Regions from separate parts of the Homo sapiens genome. Here regions 2 and 3 are each linked to region 1. The links come from fine-mapping of genetic effects on gene expression. A gene starts in region 1. Each other region holds a variant in brackets. All regions are shown on one strand. Distances are from middle to middle.

What was found. PIP is the estimated chance that this variant, and not a neighbour inherited with it, causes the effect.
Region 2: its variant is the best candidate, but not a certain one, in a credible set for the expression of CDS2 in monocytes (Quach 2016, PIP 0.83).
Region 3: its variant is the best candidate, but not a certain one, in a credible set for the expression of CDS2 in whole blood (INTERVAL, PIP 0.70).

What each region holds. Positions count from the first base shown.
Region 1 is chr20:5,124,420-5,130,127 of GRCh38, forward strand. CDS2 (CDP-diacylglycerol synthase 2) reads left to right here and starts at 2,589. Exons shown (of 13, transcript NM_003818.4): 1 at 2,589-2,730. The coding sequence starts at 2,674. It also overlaps a transcript of PCNA not described here. RefSeq lists a silencer at 2,078-2,997 and enhancers at 2,260-2,761, 3,338-3,427.
Region 2 is chr20:5,177,526-5,183,233 of GRCh38, forward strand. CDS2 (CDP-diacylglycerol synthase 2) reads left to right here. Exons shown (of 13, transcript NM_003818.4): 5 at 1,292-1,431; 6 at 4,862-4,920; 7 at 5,536-5,618. Among named protein-coding and RNA genes, the nearest start is that of CDS2, 53 kb to the left of the region's middle. The variant G/A (reference allele first, on the strand shown) is at 2,658.
Region 3 is chr20:5,198,636-5,204,343 of GRCh38, forward strand. No RefSeq gene overlaps it. Among named protein-coding and RNA genes, the nearest start is that of CDS2, 74 kb to the left of the region's middle. The variant A/G (reference allele first, on the strand shown) is at 2,586.

The DNA.
Region 1 (5,708 bases):
GAGGTCAAGAATTCAAAACCAGCCTGACCTAAAACCCCTGTCTCTACTAAAAATACAAAAATTAGCCAGCTGTGGTGGCGGGCGCCTGTAGTCCCAGCTACTCGGGAGGCTGAGACAGGAGAATTGCTTGAACCTGGGAGGCGGAGGTTGCAGTGAGCCGAGATCACACCATTGCACTCCAGCCTGAGCAACAAGAGGGAAACTGTCTAAAAAAAAAAAACAAAAAACAAACAAAAAGAAAACAAAAAACGAAAAGAGAGAGAGAGAAGGGCTCTAAAGCTGGCCTAAAGCCCTATTAGCATCACTTCCACCAGACCCCTGTTCGTCACACAGTACTGACTTCAGGAATATACTTGATCTGAGTTCCATTAACCTGAGAGGGCTGAGTGTAATGGATGAGAAGTTTGTTCAGACCACATGTTATCCATCCTAGTAATCATGCTGTGCATTCTATAATTCTGACTTATGTGCATTGATTCTCCAAGCCTCCTTTTATTAGGCTGGATTTGAAAAGGAGCAGCTGAGTTTCTAGAAGGACTGACATGACACTCACTTAGATATGACCTTTCATACCTACGTGCCCCTGAAGGTGAAGTTCTAGACACTAACATCTTCACCTGTCTTAGAAGATCATCTTGCTCGAGTGCTGTGGCTCATGCCTGTAATCCCAGAACTTTAGGAGGCCTATGTGGGAGGATTGCTCGAGCCCAGGAGTTTAAGACCAGCCTAAGCAATAAAGTGAGACTTCATCGCTACACAAAAATTTAAAAGTTAGCTGGGTGTGGTGCTGCACACCTGTAGTCCAAGCTACTCGGGCATATACTCATATAGAAATCAGGAATATATAATGCTGTTTTCAGAATTCTCACTACCTGCCCCAAAACTCACAGCTCAGGTCAAAATTACCAATAGGAAATTTTAGCCAGGCATGGTAGCTCATGCCTGTAATCCCAGCACTTTGGGAGACCTAGGCGGGAGGATCTCTTGAACCCAGGAGTTCAAGACCAGTCTGGGCAACATAGTGAGACCCTGTCTCTAAAAAAAGGAGAAATAAATTAATTAAAATTTAAAAATTGAAAAGAAGAAAAATGTAAAATTATATTTTTTTAAAAAACGAAATTGCAATTCTTTTGTGTGCAAGTGTCTCATTGTGAGATTACAGTATGCTTAAGTTGGGGACGCAGTGTTATATGTGTTTTACATCACTTACAGGGCAGTGAATAGAAAGAACAGGAAACACCAAAGGCAATGCTGGAGCAACACAAGTATTAATAAATGCAGGCAGGCAGTATAGTATGGTGGTTAGAGTGTGGGCTGGTAACAAACCTGTTTGTGTTCTAATTCTTACTAGGCACTTTCTAGCTGGGAGACCTTGGCTAAGGTCCTTTTAAAAGTTTTAAATCCATCCAACAAGTACTTACAATGGATGTGTCAAAGACATAGAGGATGCACAGTAAACAAAGTAGACAGCACTTCTGTCCCAAAAAAGGTCTTTCCATAGTCCAGAAGACAAATTTGAAAAACTGAGGAAGGGCCAGGCTCGGTGGCTCACGCCTGTAATCCCAGCACTTTGGAAGGCGGAGGCGGACGGATCACCTGAGGTCAGGAGTTCGAGACCAGCCTGACCAATATGGTGAAACCCCGTCTCTACTAAAAATACAAAAGTTAGCCGGGCGTGGTGGCGCGCACCTTGGAATTGTTTGCGCCCGGGAGGCAGAGGTTGCAGTGAGTCGAGATCATGCCACTGCACTCCAGCCTGGGCGACAGAGCGAGACTCCGTCACAAAACAAACAAACAAACGAACAAACAAACAAACCACTGAGGAAGATCTTAACTGTAAAATTCAAATCATACCCACTTCCAAGCCATGTGTGGATTAAACGAGATAAGCCAACTAAAGCGATTACTCAGCTCAGTGCCTAGTATACAATTAGTGCTTAACAAGTACTAGCGACCGCTTGGCAAAGCAAAGCAGACTGAAGCGTGGGTTTCATTTCTCATCATGTGATAAGTGATAAAATGCTCTTAACCAGGTCGGCTCACCTGGCCTTTCCATTCGACCTAAATAACGTCTACTTACTTGCGTAAGGGAAGAGCTCTGGCCCAGGTCAGCAAGCATTTGTCAGGCTAGAGCCTCCGGGTGGCGCTTCTCGCCCTCAGTAACCGGTTACCTCCAGAACCAGGGCGCCAGCTCCGGCCATCCGCGGTTAAGCGGGAGCTCCCATTGGCTAATCGCACACTGAAACGCACGCCTTTTCCCGCCCCTGACGCTGCCGTCCAATGCGCGCCTCTCGACTCTGCTCCGCCCCGCCCCGCCCCCGTCGCCCTGCCTCCCTGGCGTATTTGCGCCATTGGTGGATATTCCGGACCGTGATGGTGGCGCTGCGCGTGCGCACTCGCTCCGAGCCCTGCTCCCGGGAGAGGGAGCTCTCGGGTCGGGGCTAGGGAAGGCTGACCCCGCTCGGCCCGGGTGAAAGGGCGGTGACGGCACTGGGTGGGGCCGAGCTCCAGGGCTGGCTGCTGGGCTGCTAAGGGAACTGTGAGCCGCTCAGAGCCGCGCGCCTCCCGGGCGGGGCGGGGCCGGCCGTGGGAGTCCGCGCGTGCCCGCGCCGAGCTGCCTGCTCCGGCGGCTTCGCTGCTAGCTCGCGGCGACGTCGGGCCGATTTTCCCAGGATGACAGAGCTGAGGCAGAGGGTGGCCCATGAGCCGGTTGCGCCACCCGAGGACAAGGTAGCGGCAGCGTCGGGGTGGGCGCGGCCGGGACAGCGGCGCATCCGGGAGGCCTGCGGGGGACGCGCGCAGAGGGGTCGTCTTGTTCTCTGACCCTTTGTCGCAGCCGACGGCGGCCCCGGGCCCGGGTAGCGCGAAGGGCCCTCGGGTGCCCGGCCTTCGCGGCGCGCGCGTCAGGGGTCGGCGGGTCGGGGTCCCGGCTCAGGGTCTGACTGAAGTGGCTCCCCCGGGGCGCAGGAAGGAGCTTCTCGGGAGTGGCGCACGGCCTCCTGCCTCGCTGGGCTGGCTGCGGGGACTCCCCTCTCCCCCAACTCCGTGAGGCCTTCCTGGAGGTGAAGATATGCAGAGCCTTCTTAGGGAGGCGGCTCCTCTGAGCGCAACTTAGGCTCTCCGTTCCCTTTTACAATGTTATTATTTTGGGGGGTGGGGGAATCAGGACAAGGCCATAGCATTTGCCTCCTGGGAGATGTAAATCCCTTCTTGGGCATGAAATCATCGGCTTTGAGCAAAGGGGTGTTACCCAGTGAGCCAGTCCGTCATCAGCAGGTGTTGGAGGGCGTCCTCCCGGTTGATGGGTTGTTTCCTGCACCGTGTGGGCTCTGGTGGGTAGGGGAGGAGAGTAGGAAGGAGGCCATCTTGGCGGGGACAGTGGCGGGGGTGACGGGTGGGGGAGTGGACTCCTTTGGGTGAAGTGAAAGATCTGTGTAGGGGAGTTAAGGAAGGTAGGGATTGGTTTTATTACTGTGGAGGTTGAATGGCAGTATAGGACTTTGTAGCAGTAGTTGTGCTTTCCGAGATAGCAGTGATCAGGAGCCCTGTGTTTGGGAAACTGATCAGACAGTGATGTGTAGAAGGGACTGAGGGAGCCTGGACCAGACTGAGGGAGCCTGGTTCACTCGGGATTGCCCATGAGTGACCTGTAGATGTTTTCTTTGGCCCACATATTGCCTTAAAAATCAGAAAGTTTCTCCTAACAATCTAAATTTCTTGCCTGTCTTAGATAATTGGAGGGTCCACCATCACTTTGTCACCTGCTCAATGGTTGGCTGGAGCTGAGGATCATCGGTTCCCACCAATCCCTGTTGCCTTACACCAGGCTCACGGCTTCCCCTAATGCAGCCTGTAACTTTTTGATGACTGGACGCAACGGACATTAGGGAGACACCCAGAAGGAAGAAAGCACAAGATTTGGTGACAGGATGTCAACAGAGCAGTTACACTAGGAGGAATGTTTTTGGTGAAAGATAATGAGATCATGGGTTTTTTTTAAACAACTTTCGTGTTATTGCAGTTGACAGTGGACTATCCAAAGAGAACTGTTCCTACCGATTTTTAGAACATATATTTTGGCCAGGCACAGTGCTGCTCGCCTGTAATCCTAGCTTCTAGGGAGGCTGAGGCAGGAGGATCGCTTGAGCCCAGGAGTTTGAGACCCTGTCTCAAAAAACAAAAACAAAAACATATTTTGGAGAACATTTAGGGCTGGGGCTGAGGATTTAGCAGTCGCTTGCAGAGACAAGATACTTTGAAGTCTCTAATTTTTCATTTGGCTATCCTGGTTCAGCCTGAAAGAATTCTGACTTACCTTGTACTACTAGTTGGTGAGTATGCAGATGTTTGGAGGCTCTGTAGCTCTGTTTAAGGGTGAGATCATGCTTGATGTTAGTGGGACTTTGTGGACCTAGAAGGTGTGAGGAGAGAGAGAAGAAAGAAGGCATGATAGCTGGTGGGCCATGTTTTTGAAAAGCTAACTATGTACAATAATTAGAATGTCAAAAAACAACCTTGGGATTATGAGATGCAACATAAAGATTCTACCCTCCTTCCCGGACTCGTTGGATCCATCCCCCAGAGATAAAGTGCGAGTTGAACCGTCTTACTTTCACATCCTGTACTTTAGACTGGGAGGACCTGAGGAGCTGTCCAGCTAGAGGTGCACTTATATCACTTATACAGTGACAGAATGCCTGGGGTCATGAGGTCCACTTGTGGCGTGTTGTTTCCTAAAAGACAGCTGCTATGCACTCTGTTAAAAGCCTGATGTTCATTACCGAGAACAAGACAATCAGTTCCTCACCCCATTATTCAGAACTTCTCAATTGTCACTGAATTGTCATGTATGGGATTTTATTATTATTATTTTTTTAGACGGAGTCTCTCTCTGTCGCCCAGGCTGGAGTGCAGTGGCACGATCTCAGCTCACTGCAACCTCTGCCTCCCAGGTTCAAGCTAGTCTCCTGCCTCAGCCTCCTGAGTAGCTGGGACTATAGGCATCCGCCACCACGCTCGGCTAATTTTTTTTTTTTTTTTTGAGAGGGAGTTTCGCTCTTTTGCCCAGGCTGGAGTGCAATGGCATGATGTTGGCTCATCGCAACCTCTACCTCCCAGGTTCAAGCAATTCTCCTGCCTCAGCCGCCCGAGTAGCTGGGACTGCAGGCGTGTGCTACCATGCCCGGCTAATGTTGTATTTTTAGTAGAGGCACGGCTTCTCAATGTTGGTCAGGCTGGCCTCAAACTCCCAACCTTAGGTGATCCTCCCGCCTCAGCTTCCCAAAGTGCTGGGATTATAGGCATGAGCCACTGTACCTGGCGTTTTTTTTTTTGTATTTTTAGTAGAGATGGGGTTTCACTGTATTGGCCAGGCTGGTCTTGAACTCCTGACTTCGTGATCTGCCCGCCTCGGTCTCCCAAAGTGCTGAGACTACAGACGTGAGCCACCACACCTGGCCATGTTTGGGATTTTTAATAAGGGAACATTTTAAAAACTGTGAAATCTATTATTTGTCTTTGAATGTATATAGTAAACTTTTGTTTGTTGGTTTGTTTTTTTGTTTTTTTTTGAGACAGAGTTTCGCTCTTGTTGCCCAGGCTGGAGTGCAATGGCACAATCTCGGCTCACTGCAACCTCCACCTCCCGTGTTCAAGCAATTCTCCTGCCTTAGCTTCCCCAGTACCTGGGATTACAGGTGCCTGCCATC
Region 2 (5,708 bases), 53 kb after region 1:
TGAAACTCTGCTTTATTGGCCGTAGTATTCTCAGGTGGTGACTTTTGAGCAGAGCACTGCACCATGCTGAGAGGACCTGGGGCAAATGTGGACCTTCTCACCCCACTGTGCAGGGATACAGGGGTTGAAGCCATGACTTAGCCGGCTGGAGAGCAGTGGTTTTTGCCCCAGCAACCTGGTCACTGTCAAGGAAGCCGATGTGCTCAGATGTAGGCTGGGCACCCCCTTCCTGAGGTGTTTCCTGTCACCCAACAGACAGGCTGCCTCCCAGCCTCCAGATGGAATTGGGATTGCCACCTGGCTTAAGATGCAGGTCCCTTTTGTGGCTGTTCTTTAGCTGGAAAGCAGTGTTTTGCATTTTGTTAACATACTCAGGAGGCCTGACTCCTGGCTGTGGTCACTTTACAAAGAAAGTTTTTTCCATGTAACAGAAAAGAAACCCAATATGGGAGTTTTTGTACTTCATAATTTAAAAAAAAGAATGGGAAAGAAAAGCTCTCCACTTTCTTCTCTATCTCAGGATCCTTGCTGGGGGTTTGCAGTGATGGCTGCATGGTGCCATACTCAGCAGTACTGTGGAGGCTGCAAGGGATGGCTTCTCTTCTCATGAACGCCAGTTGAGGAGAGAGAATACACAAGTGAAGAGTTAACGCTAATGGAAGGTCTGTTTGTCAGAGCCAGGCTTCAGAGAGGCAGATGCATCATTAATTGCTTAGTCAGATAATCACATATTACTTGCTATAGAAATAAATGCAGGGGAGGCAGATGTCATGTTAGGTCATGCAAAGTTTTATGAATAAAATGGCATTTGAGCAAGGAGTGAAGAAATGGAGAAGCAAAGAGAATGTCAGGAGCAGGAAAAAGGCAGGAGAACAGCAGACAGGTGTGGCAAAGCCGGAAGAAACCATTTTGATAGGAGTGAAGGAGTTCCTGTTGGGAAGAGTGGAAACGAGACTGGGGAAGCAGGATGAGGCGTGTTTTTGAAGGTCATATGGTTCAAGGATCCCTCAGTTAGGTATGGGAATGCTACAAAAGGGGCAAAAACGGAGTCTCAAGTTTGGGAGAAATGGAGAGTGAATGAAAGCTGCTGTCTGTTTCTAGATAAATTTCTCACCTACGGTGTCACCAGAGAGCAGGAAACCATGGTCTGCCTGTTGCTCTGTGAGCTGTCCCGGGGGACTCAAGGGTGGGGGGTATTCTGCTGCCCTCTGTCCCTTCCTCTGGGATGTCTGACTGCCTTGCTGTGAAGGCAAGGGTGCTCCCCACGGCAATGACCTGTCTTCATTTACAGGTACTTTCTCCTGTGTGTAAACTATTTCTTCTATGGTGAGACAGTGACGGATTACTTCTTCACCCTGGTCCAGAGAGAAGAGCCTTTGCGGATTCTCAGTAAATACCACCGGTTCATTTCCTTTACTCTCTATCTAATAGGTATGCATTAAGCAGTTCACCATTTCTTGTGTCTGTATTGTTTTTGTATGTCTGTCAGGTAGGAATTGGGGAATTTCTTGGTTAGTATACAGTTTTGTGACATTAACTGTGACCATGCAGGGGAGCAGAGCTGATGCTCTATGTTAAGCTGTAGCAGCTGTTACCTTTTTTTTTTTTTTTTTTGAGCCAGGGTCTCACTCTGTCACCCAGGCCAGAGTGCAGTGGCACCATCTCGGCTGACTGCAACCTCCACCTCCCAAGTTGAAGCGATCCTCCCACCTCAGGTCCCGAAGTAGCTGGGACTACAGGTGCCTGCTACCATGCCCAGCTAATTTTTGTATTTTTAGTAGAGACCGAGTTTCGCCATGTTGGCCAGGCTGGTTCCGAACTCCCGAGTTTAACTTATCCGCCTGCCTTGGCCTCCCAAAGTGCTGGGATTACAGGTGTGAGCCACCACGCCCGGCCTTGTAGGAGCTCTTTTAAGAGAAGCAGAGTGTAGGGGCAGGACTGTGGCCTGTGCCACCTGCCCCTGTGTTTCAGCCACCATTGAGGAACAGCACAGCATGGTCCTGTCCTGACTCTCCTGTTGGCAAAGATTCTGCAGTGGGACCGAAACAAAAATCATCTAGGAACTTACCATCTTTAGGGGAGTCATTTTAGGAGACCGCCTTGGGTGACATTGTAGCATGGTGGAAATTTTACTGGATTTGGGCGTAGACTCTGCAACCTCAGGGGGAGCTAGGAACATAATATTTCTGAGTCTCAGCTCTTTTGTAATCTAGAGCTAAAACTGCAGGGTTACTGTGAGGATTAAATCAAATACATTAAAACTTCACAAACATTAAAGCGTTATATTAGTATACATTCAGGTAAGGCCACGTACTAATTCTAATAATGCTGATGGTTTTTCATAGCTACCTTCAAAGCTAGTTTGAGGTGCACGAAAAATTTGTTCTGACCTCAATGTCAATCTGACCTATTTTTGATCAGCTTGATAGCAATACTTCTGTGAATGACACCTGACTATTAAAATATAAAATCTGCAAAGGGGTCTGCTGCCATTGAGGATATTCAGAGAGTATGCTGCAGACCCCGAAAGCAGCCTTCCACAGTGGGAGGTAAGGGGTCTGGAAAAGCGACATGCTTATTTCTGGGCAGAACTGCTTTTGAGGATCTCCGCATGTTTATGGATAAAGGTTCCTTTCCTTCCTGGAGAAGGGGTCTGC[G/A]GACATGTTGTGCTACCATCTAGGTCACTGTGAGAGAGATAAAAAGGTGGTCTTGACCCTATACCATGTGGATCCCTCTTCTCCCAGCCCTATGAATACTAGGACAGGTATTGGCAAACTTTTTTTTTTTTTTTAAGGGGAAGCAAGTTTATTAAGAAAGTAAAGGAATAAAAGAATGGCCCTTAGAGCAGCCCCGAGGGCTGCTGGTTGCCCATTTTTATGGTTATTTCTTGATTATATGCTAAACAAAGGGTGGATTATTCATGTTTCCTTTTTTTAGATCATATAGGGTAATTTCCTGATGTTGCCATGGCATTTGTAAACTGCCATGTCACTGATTGGAGTGTAGCAATTAGGACAAGCAGAGGTCATTCTCATTGCTATCTTGATTTTGGAGGGGTTTGGCCAGCTTCTTTACTGCAGTTGTTTTCTCAGCAAGGTCTTTATGACCTGTATCTTGTGTGACCTCCTATCTCATCCTGTGACTTAGAATACCTAACCGTCTGGGAATGCAGACCCTGTAGATCTCAGCCTCATTTTACCCAGCTCCTATTCAGGATGGAGTTGCTCTAGCTCAAATGCCTCTGACATTTCCCCCATCACTTTTATAAGAGAACCCTTAATCCTAAGGGTTGCAGAGGGACGAAGATCCATCCTCTGTAACTTCTTCAGGCTGATTAGGGGCAATGATATTCCTGCCTACCTATCGAGGTCTCTTGTATTCAGGGTAGAGAGGAGCTCAGTCAGAAAGTGTCAGTATGGTTAGGGCTATTCACAGCTCGGACACAAAGTGATATCTGGAAGATTTTGTAAGTGTTTAAGAGAACATTGAGTAAGCTTATCCTGCATTCCTACACAAATAGTACAACTATTCCATATCAGTAAAGCAAAATAAGCAAAACTATCCCAAGTAAACTAAAGAAGGCTTTCCATGAACTGGGTAATTGTTGGAACCAAGCTGATACGGGGTCGGTAGCTGATTGCAATATGTTCCCAGAATTAGAATACTGATTCAGATTTTTACATCACCAATCCCTCTTGTTTCTTCTGAGCTGCAGCCAGAGATCACTGGTTGGTTCACAGGAACAAGCAGTCTAAATTGCAGAAAAAAACCAAAGTCAGCCAATCAGTGCTGCAGTCTATTTCCTTTGGGTTGGGGGTCTCCTCAGTATTGTCCCTTTGGGGTTCACCAGAAAGATGTTACCAGAAAGGGGTCCAGACCCGGACCCCAAGAGAGTGTTATTGGATCTCATACAAGAAGGAGTTTGGGGCGAGTCTGTGGAGGAAAGTGAAAGCAAGTCTATTAAGAAAGTAAAGGAATAAAAGAATTGCTACTCTGTAGGCACAACAGGCAGCAAACTTTTTATTAAAGTTCCAAACAGTAAATATTTTAGGCTTTGGGGACCATAGGGTCTCTTGCAGTTACAGTCATGCATCGTTTAACCATGGGCTATGTTCTCGGAAATGCATTGTTGTCATTTTGTCATTGTGCAAACATTGTAGAGTGTACTTATGCAGACCTAGATGGTATAGCCTCCTACACACCTAGGCTATAATGTGTAGTCTATTTCTCTTAGAGTACAAACCTGTACAGCATGTTACCTTACTAAATAAATACTGTAGGCAATTATAACACAATGGTAAGTATTTGTGTATCTAAACATAGAAAAGGTACTATATGGTAATTAGTAAATCTTATGGTATTATAATCTATGGGTATTATAACCTTAGGGAACTGTTGTTGTGTATGTGGTGTGTTGTTGACGAGAACCTCGTTGTTCAGAGCATGACTGTACTCAGTTCTGCTGAGTTGTAGCTTGAAAGCAGCCATAGACAATATGTAAACAAATGGACATAACTGTGTTTGAATAAAACTTTATTTATAAAAACAAGCAGCTGGCCTGACCACTGTTTGCTGGCCCATGTTCTAGGAATAAAACATTCCTATCTGATGAACCATGTTCTAAGTTTAGTGTGGTCTGCATGATTATAAAATATTGCCTTCCTTTTACTGTTTGGGAGGAGTTATTTTTTCCTTGTGACTGTTTATCTGGGTAATGTTTTTCTCCCCTGGGCTTTGACATTGTGCACTGGTTAGCTGCTGGGAATAAATTAGCCAAAGAACCACTTAACATAGCTAAAGGAGGGCAAAGATAAATGCAGAACATAATTCATTTTTCTTTTCTCCTCCCACCTCAAACTAGGATTCTGCATGTTTGTACTGAGTCTGGTCAAGAAGCATTATCGACTGCAGTTCTACATGGTAAAGGAAATGCATGCGTGTGTGTCAGAATTCTTGATTTAAATGAAGTTTTTCAGGAACTCAACAAGCCTTTCATGCTTTCTGTGACAAATCAAAACTCAGGAACATGGTCTGATATGTATGCATCTAGAGCATGAAGGAAGAATGCCCATTTAGGTTTAATGGCTCTACGTTGACTTAGACCCAGTCACTGTTACTTACACCTTAAGCAGCCTCTCCACTAGGACCCTGAGGTGGGCTCCAGAGAAGGCACAAGCTGAAGCTTCAGACACTGCCCACAGATGTCCTGTCTGGTACATCACTTGCTACCACTTATTCCCTGACTCACTAGAGAACAGCTCCTCTCTGAGTGCTCCAGGTGCTCAATAACTACTAAGAAAATGAAAAATACCCAGGCTTTCAGAGCATGGGAGAGCTCACTCACTAGTGGGCTGTGGGGGACAAAGTATTACTCTCAGAAGCCTGATCTTACCTGTTCACTTTCAATAAGTCAGATACAAAAGCAGATATTTTTCCTACCTGCTTCTCAGCAGTTTTCTATTTGGTATTGATTGTTCTTTGAAGTTACTTTCAAGGTAAACTGGTAAGTAGTGTTTATTTTTCTTTTTTTTGCAGTTTGGCTGGACCCATGTGACATTGCTGATTGTTGTAACACAGTCACATCTTGTTATCCACAACCTATTTGAAGGAATGATCTGGTGAGAATTGGGAGTTGGATTTTCCCTTTTATTTTGTGAGTGTTTCTCGTGTACAGATACCCCCCTCTAAGCCAGTGGCCCTCACCTTGA
Region 3 (5,708 bases), 74 kb after region 1:
GAGCTGGCCAGTGCCTGACCCACGCATTCGGGCCCTGCCTTCACAGCCACAGCTGCCGCTTGTCCTTCCTTGTTCCAGGTGTGCGCCTGTCCCGGGCCCTGGCGTGGGCCCTCTGCCCAGTTTTTTTCCTTTCCCAGCTCTTCGTCAGCCTGCCTAACTCCTCTTTTCCTAGCAGTTCTCACCGTCAACAGCACTTCCTTGGGGAGGCCTTATGTTGTCTCCTCACTGTGTGTCTCCTGCCCCAGGACAGAAGGGTCTGAACTCCTGGGAGCCAGCAGGCCAGCCTTACCAGGGCAAATGTCTGAGGCCAGTGGGACCTCTAGATTGATTACCTTTTGGACAGGGGCCTCTGCCATTTTCACCCATAGGAAAGCTACTACCATTGGAATTTCCTCAGTGAATTGCTCGCCAACATTCAAGATGCAGAAAAACCCACTGCATTCACTTACTTTCCTAAACCCCACAAAATCTGACTGCAAGCCACCAGTTTCCAAGACTGATGGGAAAACCAACATGAGTCGTTTTCCCTGGCTGCTTTGCTCCCTTTTGTTGCACCAGGAGCCGAGGGCTCACATGTTGCTGAAGTGGTGAGGGTCCCTGGGCTCAACTCCATCTGCTGAAGGCTCTGTTGTCCAGCCCTGTGAAGTCCATAGGAGGCCCTAGGCCAGTGGCGTCAGAGCACCTGTGCAGTTGCCTGCATCTGGCATCCTTCCATATCCAGAGCCCCCCGCACACTGGTCTTGATGATTTCTTTTTTCTCCTCTCTCCTTTCTTTCTTTTTTTTTTTATTATTATACTTTAAGGTACATGTGCACAACGTGCAGGTTTGTTACATATGTATACATGTGCCATGTTGGTGTGCTGCACCCATTAACTCATCATTTAACATTAGGTGTATCTCCTAATGCTTTCCCTCCCCCCTCCCCCACCCCACAACAGGCCCCGGTGTGTGATGTTCCCCTTCCTGTGTCCAAGTGTTCTCATTGTTCAATTCTTACCTGCGTGAGAACATGCGGTGTTTGGTTTTTTGTTCTTGCGATAGTTTGCTGAGAATGATGGTTTCCAGCTTCATCCATGTCCCTACAAAGGACATGAACTCATCCTTTTTTATGGCTGCGTGGTATTCCACGGTGTATATGTGCCACATTTTCTTAATCCAGTCTATCATTGTTGGACATTTGGGTTGGTTCCAAGTCTTTGCTATTGTGAATAGTGCCGCAATAAACATACGTGTGCATGTGTCTTTATAGCAGCATGTTTTATAATCCTTTGGGTATATACCCAGTAATGGGATGGCTGGGTCAAATGGTATTTCTAGTTCTAGATCCCTGAGGAATCGCCACACTGACTTCCACAATGGTTGAACTAGTTACAGTCCCACCAACAGTGTAAAAGTGTTCCTATTTCTCCACATCCTCTCCAGGATCTGTTGTTTCCTGACATTTTAATGATCGCCATTCTAACTGGTGTGAGATGGTATCTCATTGTGGTTTTGATTTGCATTTCTCTGATGGCCAGTGATAATGAGCATTTTTTCATGTGTCTTTTGGCTGCATAAATGTCTTCTTTTGAGAAGTGTCTGTTCATATCCTTCGCCCACTTTTTGATGGGGTTGTTTGTTTTTTTCTTGTAAATTTGTTTGAGTTCATTGTAGATTCTGGATATTAGCCCTTTGTCAGATGAGTAGATTGCAGAATTTTTCTCCTATTCTGTAGGTTGCCTGTTCACTCTGATGGTAGTTTATTTTGCTGTGCAGAAGCTCTTTAGTTTAATTAGATCCTATTTGTCAATTTTGGCTTTTGTTGCCATTGCTTTTGGTGTTTTAGACATGAAGTCCTTGCCCGTGCCTATGTCCTGAATGGTATTGCCTAGGTTAGACACAACAAAAAAGAGAATTTTAGACCAATATCCCTGATGAACATCGATGCAAAAATCCTCAATAAAATACTGGCAAACCGAATCCAGCAGCACATCAAAAAGCTTATCCACCATGATCAAGTGGGCTTCATCCCTGGGATGCAAGGCTCATTCAACATACGCAAATCAATAAATGTAATCCAGTATATAAACAGAACCAACGAAAAAAACCATATGATTATCTCAATAGATGCAGAAAAGGCCTTTGACAAAATTCAACAATGCTTCATGCTAAAAACGCTCAATAAATTAGGTATTGATGGGATGTACCTCAAAATAATAAGAGCTATCTATGACAAACCCACAGCCAGTATCATACTGAATGGGCAAAAACTGGAAGCATTCCCTTTGAAAACTGGCACAAGACAGGGATGCCCTCTCTCACCACTCCTATTCAACATAGTGTTGGAAGTTCTGGCCAGGGCAATCAGGCAGGAGAAAGAAATAAAGGGTATTCAGTTGAGAAAAGAGGAAGTCAAATTGTCCCTCTTTGCAGATGACATGATTGTGTATCTAGAAAACCCCATCGTCTCAGCCCAAAATCTCCTTAAGCTGATAGGCAACTTCAGCAAAGTCTCAGGATACAAAATCAATGTGCAAAAATCACAAGCATTCTTATACACCAATAACAGACAAACAGCCAAATCATGAGTGAACTCCCATTCACA[A/G]TTGCTTCAAAGAGAATAAAATACCTAGGAATCCAACTTACAAGGGACGTGAAGGACCTCTTCAAAGAGAACTACAAACCACTGCTCAATGAAATTAAAGAGGATACAAACAAATGGAAGAACATTCCATGCTCATGGGTAGGAAGAATCAATATGGTGAAAATGGCCATACTGCCCAAGGTAATTTACAGATTCAATGCCATCCCCATCAAGCTACCAATGACTTTCTTCACAGAATTGGAAAAAACTACTTTGAAGTTCATATGGAACCAAAAAAGAGCCCGCATTGCCAAGTGAATCCTAAGCCAAAAGAACAAAGCTGGAGGCATCATGCTACCTGACTTCAAACTATACTACAAGGCTACAGTAACCAAAACAGCATGGTACTGGTACCAAAACAGAGATATAGACCAATGGAACAGAACAGAGCCCTCAGAAATAATGCTGCATATCTGCAACTATCTGATCTTTGACAAACCTGAGAAAAACAAGCAATGGGGAAAGGATTCCCTATTTAATAAATGGTGCTGGGAAAACTGGCTAGCCATATGTAGAAAGCTGAAACTGGATCCCCTCCTTACACCTTATACAAAAATTAATTCAAGATGGATTAAAGACTTAAATGTTAGACCTAAAACCATAGAAACCCTAGAAGAAAACCTAGGCAATACAATTTTTTTTTTTTTTTTTTGAGACAGAGTCTCCCTCTGTTGCCCAGGGTGGAGTTCAGTGGTTGGATCTCAGCTCACTGCAACCTTCGCCTGCCAGGTTCAAGTGATTCTCCTGCCTCAGCCTCCCAAGTAGCTGGGATTACAGGCATGTGCCACCACACCCCGCTAATTTTTTTATATTTTTAGTAGAGACAGGATTTCGCCATGTTGGCCAGGCTGGTCTCAAACTCCTGACCTCAGGTGATCCACCCACCTTGGCCTCCCAAAGTGCTGGGATTACAGGCGTGAGCCGCCGCTGGCTGTGTGTTCAGCCAGCACTTGTGGAGTGCCTGCTCTGGGGTAGGCCCTGTCCAGACACTGCAACAAAAAGTCCTTGTTTCATGGAGCTCATTTTAGGGAAGAACGACAAACCTGAGAAAGGATGTTAGATGGAGAAAAATGTAGCCAGAAGGAGGGAAGAGGGATTGCTGGTAGGGAGAGGTTGCCATTTTAAATAGGGTGAACAGGGAAGGCCTCACTGCAGAGGTGGTGTTTGGGCAAATGGACACACCTCGAGGCTGTGGGGGAGGGAGCTGTTCAGGTATCTGGGGAAGTGCAAAGACACCTGTGCTGTGGAGGAACTGCAGGGTGGATGGAGCAGGGAAGTGGGGAGGAGCACTGGCAGGAAACCCAGGGGAATTACACAGGGCCAAGGCCATTGGCTTTTACTCTGAGCAAGATAAGAAGCTGTTGGGGAGTTCAGAGCCTAGGAGTGTCAAAGTGGTGTTTGTTTGCAAAGGGCTGCTATGTTGAGAACAGACTACAGTGGGCCAAGGGTGAAAGCAGGGTGATCAGAGAGGAGGCAACAGCAGCGATCCAGAAGAGAGAGAGACAGACACACACACACACAGACACACACACACAGACACACACACACACACACACACACACACACGTGGCTCAGCAGGGGATATGGGAGTGGGGCGGTGGTGAGAAATGGTCAGATTGTCAGAATCTGCAGAAGGATTAGGTATGGAGGAGAGGGACGAAGAGGAGTCAAGGAGGGCTGTGAAGTTGGCTTGGGCGGCCGGAAGGATGGTGCTGCCATTTCTAAACTGTGGACGGCTGTGGGAGGACAGGTGCAGGTGGGAGGTGGATTAGAGAGGGTCAGTCAGGAGTTTGGGTTTGGACACGCTAGGTTTGAGATGCCTGTGAGATACCCACACAGGGATGTCCAGTCCTGGGGAGTAGTCCGAGATGGAAATAGAAATTTGAGAGTGATGAGGGTGTGCGCGTTATTCTACACCAGGAGCCGGAAGACTGGATAAAATCATCGACGGAGAGGAGCTAAGGTCTGGAGATGAGCCCCTCCGTCGTTTTGGACTTGAGGATCTACTTTTTAGCTAGGGCTACTCCCTTCCCTTCAATAAGACAATCCAGCCTTCAGGCCTGGGGAAAGGCCTGGGTAGAGTTGCCTTCAGGTGGCCCCACTCCCACCTCACAGCAGAAGCAGCTATTAATTTTCTCCTGGGGCCAGAATTCTAGAGGCCTGAGTGCTCTTCCCTTGAGAAGAAAGGGCAGCTTTACCTTTTGGTCTCCTGGGAAAGGAGAGGAAGGGAAACAAAGCAAGAGTAACTTCTCTATTTGATTATTTAGAGGCCAGGCAGTCGGGGTGGGAAGTCCCAGAGATGGACTCATGGCCTGGCCATGGCGTACTCACTTACACGCCATCCAATATTTACCAAAGGACACTGCCAGTTCCCAAATCAACCAAAACTTAGGGAGTTCTCAAATGAAATAAACACCATTGTGCCATTTCCGTTAATATCACTTCTCAATTTTAACAAACTTAAACACATTTTTAGGGTAAAAAGCACATCCATCAGACTGAGTCTAGGTTCAGGGTAAATTCTGATCTGGATTTGACCAAGGGAACTGAAGTTATTCCTGCAGCAAAGATTTGACCGATGGTGGATTTGACTGAGGCAACTGAAGTTATTCCTGCAGCTAAGATGGGCTCTCTGATCTTGCCCACATGGTCTCTATTTCTCGTAGATTCCAGGAGCCTTAGAGGTAGAGCCTTTGAAGCCATTGATTCTCAAACTTGGCTGCACATTAGAATTGCCTGAGGAACCTAAAAAACTACCAGTGCCCAGGCAGTATCTCAGACCAATGAGATAAGAGTCTCTGGGGGTGGGATGCAGGCATGAGTTTTAAAAAAAGCAGTTCCCTGGACTTACTCCAAAGTGTAGCTGAGGTTGAGAAACAGTGATTGAAACTTCCTCTAGTGAGTCCAGCCCCTCTCAGAAACCCATCATAACTGGTCAGCACCCTGTGCTGGAGCATCCCCAGGGTGAGCCTCAGGATGTCCCGAGGTGACCCTTCTGGGGTAGGTAATGTTGCTGTTCCATCCAGTGCTATTATTCTACATCACAAGCTATAGGGCAGAATGGTGTGTGCCTCCCAGTGCCTT